Regions from separate parts of the Homo sapiens genome. Here region 2 is linked to region 1. The links come from fine-mapping of genetic effects on gene expression. A gene starts in region 1. The other region holds a variant in brackets. All regions are shown on one strand. Distances are from middle to middle.

The links. PIP is the estimated chance that this variant, and not a neighbour inherited with it, causes the effect.
Region 2: its variant is fine-mapped to the expression of ENTR1 in whole blood (INTERVAL, PIP above 0.99).

Annotation. Positions count from the first base shown.
Region 1 is chr9:136,409,198-136,412,093 of GRCh38, reverse strand. It overlaps ENTR1 (endosome associated trafficking regulator 1), which reads left to right and starts at 1,480. Exons shown (of 10, transcript NM_001039707.2): 1 at 1,480-1,766; 2 at 1,855-2,004. The coding sequence starts at 1,697. PMPCA (peptidase, mitochondrial processing subunit alpha) reads right to left here and starts at 1,436. Exons shown (of 13, transcript NM_015160.3): 1 at 1,355-1,436; 2 at 1-97. The coding sequence starts at 1,425. RefSeq lists enhancers at 1,198-1,247, 1,278-1,367, 2,218-2,377 and silencers at 1,578-1,667, 1,808-1,857.
Region 2 is chr9:136,517,055-136,519,950 of GRCh38, reverse strand. NOTCH1 (notch receptor 1) reads left to right here. Exons shown (of 34, transcript NM_017617.5): 5 at 386-508; 6 at 1,127-1,360; 7 at 1,659-1,814; 8 at 2,014-2,199; 9 at 2,566-2,679. It overlaps MIR4673 (microRNA 4673), which reads left to right and starts at 325; the gene lies at 325-383. The region is part of intron 1 of LOC124902310 (a long non-coding RNA gene); the gene reads right to left. The variant C/G (reference allele first, on the strand shown) is at 1,518.

The DNA.
Region 1 (2,896 bases):
AAAAACAGGCTTGGGTACTCCAGGTAAGGGAGAAGAGAGGGGGATGTTGGGATAGGCACCACCACTACTAAACCGTCTGTACGCAGGAGGTCCAAACCTAAAACAGAGAAAGCGGCCCAGTTACAACAGGCTTGAGACAACAAACCTGTGATGACCTGTTAGGTGCGGTTAGTTATGTTTTGTCTGGGTTAAAAGTGAGCATCTGCCTTTCTACAGGACTTATTTCTACAGACTTTGGAAGACAAAGCAGAGGCTGACAACAAAGGCTCAGCCACGGGACCTGGAGCAAGCTGGTTCCGTCCTTTGGGTCTTAGTTGCTATCTCTGTAAAAACAGGGCTTATTAACAGTAACTCACTCTAAGTGCAGTTTGTACACATAAAGCACTTAACAGCTCTGCCCTCCAACAGCACCACCGAAGTCTTGGATAAAAGCCATATCCCTTATTAACCTGGTCCGAAGGCGGGGTGTGACTTGGCCTCTGTCTCCCTCTCCAAACTCATCTCTTGAACCCCCACACTCCCATAGGTCCTGGTCACACTGATTCTTGTCAATTCCTGGAACACATTTGACTCATCAACCCCAAAGCTTCTTCACCGTTCCAGGGCTTGCCCTTTGCCCATGCCTACCCCTTCTTTCATTCTTCAGCTCTTCCCTTAAATGTCACCCTGATGGAGGACTATCCCTCACCAGTCTAGTCTTTCCTGCTATTTTCTATCATGAAAGGCTGCTTGTTTACTCCAAAGCATTTACGCGACTGCCGATATTTTGTTTACGCTCCAGCCTGTATCCATCTCCTGGAGGCAGCACCTCCGCACCCCTGAAACGGCGCTCGTTGTGTGGGGAGGGGCGACGCCTGTGCTGTCGGAACAAAGTTCCAGCGTGGGGAAAGGCAGGCCCGGTCACTTGGGTGGGAGGAGCGGTGGGTACGGAAAGGGTTCTTAAACGTCAGAGATCAACGGACAGACCGCAGCAACCGAGAGCCTGGACCCTGGTGTCAGAACCCTGCGGGTCTAACAGAGCTGGGCCCCCACCGGCTCAGCCTCCTGAAGGAGCACGCGGTAGGTGAAGCGCGGGGGCAAATATGAGGCATGGCCTCGGAGAAGGCCCGTCGACCCGGGAAGTGAGGGGGGGAGAGGACCCAGCAGCCGGGGAGAGGAGAGACAGATGGGACTGCGTCCCCGGGCTCGAGGCGCAAAGCAAGGCAGGGCCCCCGTCGCCTCGGGGACACCAGTGTCCCGAAGTGCGAGCCCGTCCCACGGGCGCCATGTCACCTGTAGAAACCGAAGACGGAGCGTCCAGAAAGACTCGAGCCGCCCCCGCCCCAGGCCGAAGCCTGGTTCGCCTTTGGCTCACCTCAGCCGCGAACAGCCCCAAGAACCCGAGCCCCGCAGCAACCGCGTCGCCGCCAGCACCACAGCCGCCATCTTGCGTCTCCGCCCCGCTTCAGTCGTCACTTCCGCTTCCGCCCACGGCTTCCCCTCCCCCTCGCCGACGGCCCAAGGCGTTCAGGCACGCGCTTTCGGTGCTCGGAGCGGAAGCAGCGGCGAGAGGCTCGGAGGCGCGGGGGCGGCCGAGCGGCGGGCGACGGGGGCGGGCGACGGGGGCGGGCGACGCGGGCCGCGGCACGGGCGGAGCCGGGGCCATGGAGCCGCCGCTGCCGGGCTAGGCAGGTCGTGCCCCGCCGGGCCGGCGGCGATGTCGGGCTACCAGCGCCGCCCGGGCGCCACCCCGCTGTCCCGAGCCCGGAGCCTCGCCATTCCCGACGGTGAGCGGGGCAGGGGCCGAGTCCAGCGGTCCAGGTGGGCGGCGGCCGCCCCGGCACGCAGTAAAGTCGCTGTTGTCGTTGCTTCCAGCTCCAGCGTTCTATGAGCGCCGGTCTTGTCTCCCCCAGCTAAATTGTGAGCGCCCCCATGGCAGGGACCTGGACTCCCCCTTCTTCGGCATTCGGCCGGCCTTTATGTGCTATGTGCCCAGCCCGGTGCTGGCTTCCGTGGGAGACACAGGTGAGAGACGAGGGCGCCGGCCCCGGGGACGCTTCCAGTTCCCGCGCCACGTGTGGCACCTCCGCTGCAGCACGAGCTCGTCCATTGACCCATCAATGTGCAGAGCGCTCACTGCGTGCCAGGCACTCGGAATTCAAAGGCGGAGTCCCCTGCTAGGAGCTCACAGTCTGGTTGCGGGGAGACCTCCCCCAAGACAGACAGTTCCAGTACAGGATGGTTAGTGCCCGGGGAGCACAGGAGCCCGCCCGCTTTCCTCGTGGGGCTGGAGTCGGGGTGCCTTCACCTAGTGGGCAGTGATTGGAAACCGAGCTGGAGCATTCCATCTGCCTCCACAGCCGGGCAGTGGCCAGATCTGGTTCGTCCTCGTTCTACCCAAGCAGAAGTGCTGCTGGGTGCCCGGGGTGTGCAGGAGTGTTTGTGTGGTTATGCCAGGATCTGAGGACATTCGGGGGTTGTCACAAGACAAGAGGACGCGCTTGCCCCGGCTGGGCTTCAAAATCTGCTGAGGAGCCGCTTTCAGACCACGGACACCAGGGCCAGTCTGCAAGTCAGGCCATCTCCAGGGTCACAAGTCTGGGAGCTTGTGTTTTTTTTAAAGTTTTCTCGGCTGACCGGGCGCAGTGGCTTACGCCTGTAATCCCAGCACTTTGGGAGGCCGAGGCAGGCGGATCATGAGGTCAGGAGATTGAGACCATCCTGGCTAACAGGGTGAAAACCCGTCTCTACAAAAAATACAAAAAAATTAGCCGGGCGTGGTGGCAGGTGCCTGTAGTCCCAGCTACTCGGGAGGATGAGGCAGGAGAATGGCGTGAACCCAGGAGGCGGAGCTTGCAGGGAGCCGAGATCGCACCACTGCACTCCAGCTTGGGCGACAGAGCAAGACTCCGTCTCA
Region 2 (2,896 bases), 110 kb before region 1:
GCCCAGGCCCCAGTGTCAGCCCCTGAAGATGGGGTGTGCGGCCCCCCTGTGGAGACATTGTAGGGAGCTCTGAGCATGCAGGCGGCACCCAGGTGCAGGAGCTGCCGGAACCTCTTAAAAGAGACCCAAGGGTTTTTGTGACAGAATCTTCTGGAACCCTGTGTTCCTGAGTCCCTGTTTAGCCAGTCCTGTCCAAAATGATTCTTTCAAGCAGGGCGTGTCCCTCTGGGCACTGGAGTGAGGCAGGGGACGGGCACAGACCCCGGGGGCCCCAGGGCAGGGCCGTGGAGGCCAGGCTCTTGTGTCCAGAGCAGTGTGTCGGGGGTCCAGGCAGGAGCCGGACTGGACCTCAGGGAAGAGGCTGACCCGGCCCCTCTTGCGGCAGGCTTCACCGGCCAGAACTGTGAGGAAAATATCGACGATTGTCCAGGAAACAACTGCAAGAACGGGGGTGCCTGTGTGGACGGCGTGAACACCTACAACTGCCGCTGCCCGCCAGAGTGGACAGGCGCGTATACGGGTCGCCGCAGGGCGGGGTAGCCGGGGCGGGGCTGCTACCCACTTACTAAACTGCACTCACAGGCATAGCGGGGAGCAGCCGAGACCCTGTCCCAGGCCAGGCAGACTAGGGTTGGCCGAGAAGGACAACATGATGGGGGCCCCACTTCCCGTGGCCAGGGTCTGGTGCCCCTCACCTCGGGGGTCAGCACAGACAGGGCCCTGGTTGGTCTGTGTGGGCCGTTTGCAACCTGGCTCCAGGCAGCCCCTGTGCCCAGTGGGGTGTCCTGGCATTGAGGGCCTTCAGCACCCCACTCAGGCCACGCTTCCTGGGCCAGTCACAGGGATGCCTGGATGAACAGACAGGCCCTGTGTTCGGGAATTACCCTCTGGTGGGGTGACGGGCAAAGGTGCACCCCGACGCAGCAGTGTCCACAGAGCACAAAGAGGAGGCAAGACTCCATGGTGCTGGGCCTGCAGAGGAAGGAGTGATTTAGGCTGGCGGTGGGTGGAGGAGTCAGCCCAGGAAGGCTTCCTGGAGGGGGCGGCATTGCCACCCTGCGTCTTAGGGGACAGGGAGCTCAGGGAGTGGCAGCTGCCCGGGGCCGACAGCTCCTGTTCCCTGCAGGTCAGTACTGTACCGAGGATGTGGACGAGTGCCAGCTGATGCCAAATGCCTGCCAGAACGGCGGGACCTGCCACAACACCCACGGTGGCTACAACTGCGTGTGTGTCAACGGCTGGACTGGTGAGGACTGCAGCGAGAACATTGATGACTGTGCCAGCGCCGCCTGCTTCCACGGCGCCACCTGCCATGACCGTGTGGCCTCCTTCTACTGCGAGTGTCCCCATGGCCGCACAGGTGAGTGCCTTGAGGCCCAGGTGGGCGCAGGGGGCTCACATGGGCCAGGCCTGAGCTGTGTGACCTCACCCAGGGACTGTGGCCCTCCTGCACCCAGGATAACCTGAAAGGGCCTTTCTGGTCAGGGAGGCCGGTGGTCGCTGTGAGTCCCCCGGAA[C/G]GTCCCAAGTGTCACGGGATGCCCGACGGGGTCACGGCGGGCAGCTCCTCCTGGGGTGTCAGTGGGGTTGGACCCCAGCCGTGGGTGGTGTGCCATGCCTGGCCCAGGGGCCGTGCCCACTGACCGCCGCTGCCTGCCCAGGTCTGCTGTGCCACCTCAACGACGCATGCATCAGCAACCCCTGTAACGAGGGCTCCAACTGCGACACCAACCCTGTCAATGGCAAGGCCATCTGCACCTGCCCCTCGGGGTACACGGGCCCGGCCTGCAGCCAGGACGTGGATGAGTGCTCGCTGGGTAGGTGCCAGCACAGGGGGTGCGGCCAGGTGGGGGTGGCAGCCTGGCCCCAGAACCGATGAGAAGTCGATTCTGGCTTCAGGGGGTGCCCAGTTAGATGGGGGATGGGACCCTGCCAGTCCGATGGGGGTGGTGTGCAGTGAGGTGTTGCAGGGGCCAGGGTGCCTGGAGCAGCCTCTCACCCGTGTGCCCTCGCCAGGTGCCAACCCCTGCGAGCATGCGGGCAAGTGCATCAACACGCTGGGCTCCTTCGAGTGCCAGTGTCTGCAGGGCTACACGGGCCCCCGATGCGAGATCGACGTCAACGAGTGCGTCTCGAACCCGTGCCAGAACGACGCCACCTGCCTGGACCAGATTGGGGAGTTCCAGTGCATCTGCATGCCCGGTGCGTCGGCCGGGGCCAGGGCGGGAAACCGAGTCGAGGCTGGGCAGCCTTGGAGGGGCAGCCCCGGGAACATCTGTGGGTTGCTTCCGCTTTCCCCAGCCTCCATGCCTTCTGGGCCCACAGCCTGCACAGGGCATGGGGAAACTGAGGCCAGGCCACAGGGCCAGCAGAGCACGGGGGCAGTGCTAGGCAGATGAGGGTGCCGGGCCAGGGGCCACGGGCTGCAGGGGAGCGGGTGCGCAGGGGGCCCGTGGTGGCTGGGACACTGGGCTGGAGGCAGGGTTCGTTTCTGTCCCAAGTCCACAGCTGTGCCCAGTGGGGCACTGGGGCCGCGCGTGCCCCCCTCACTGTTGCCCCACCCCACAGGCTACGAGGGTGTGCACTGCGAGGTCAACACAGACGAGTGTGCCAGCAGCCCCTGCCTGCACAATGGCCGCTGCCTGGACAAGATCAATGAGTTCCAGTGCGAGTGCCCCACGGGTGAGGGCCACCCCCGCCCCCTGCCCCCGGGTCGTCTGCACCCTGGCCTCCTGAGGGGTGCCTGGGCGTGGGTTGTGTCCCCTGCCCCCGGGCCATCTGCACCCCGGCCTCCTGAGGGGTGAGGGCCGCCCCCACCCCCTGCCCTCGGGCCGTCCGCACCCCGGCCTCCTGAGGGGTGAGGGCCGTGGGTTGTGTCCCCTGCTCCTGGGCCGTCTGC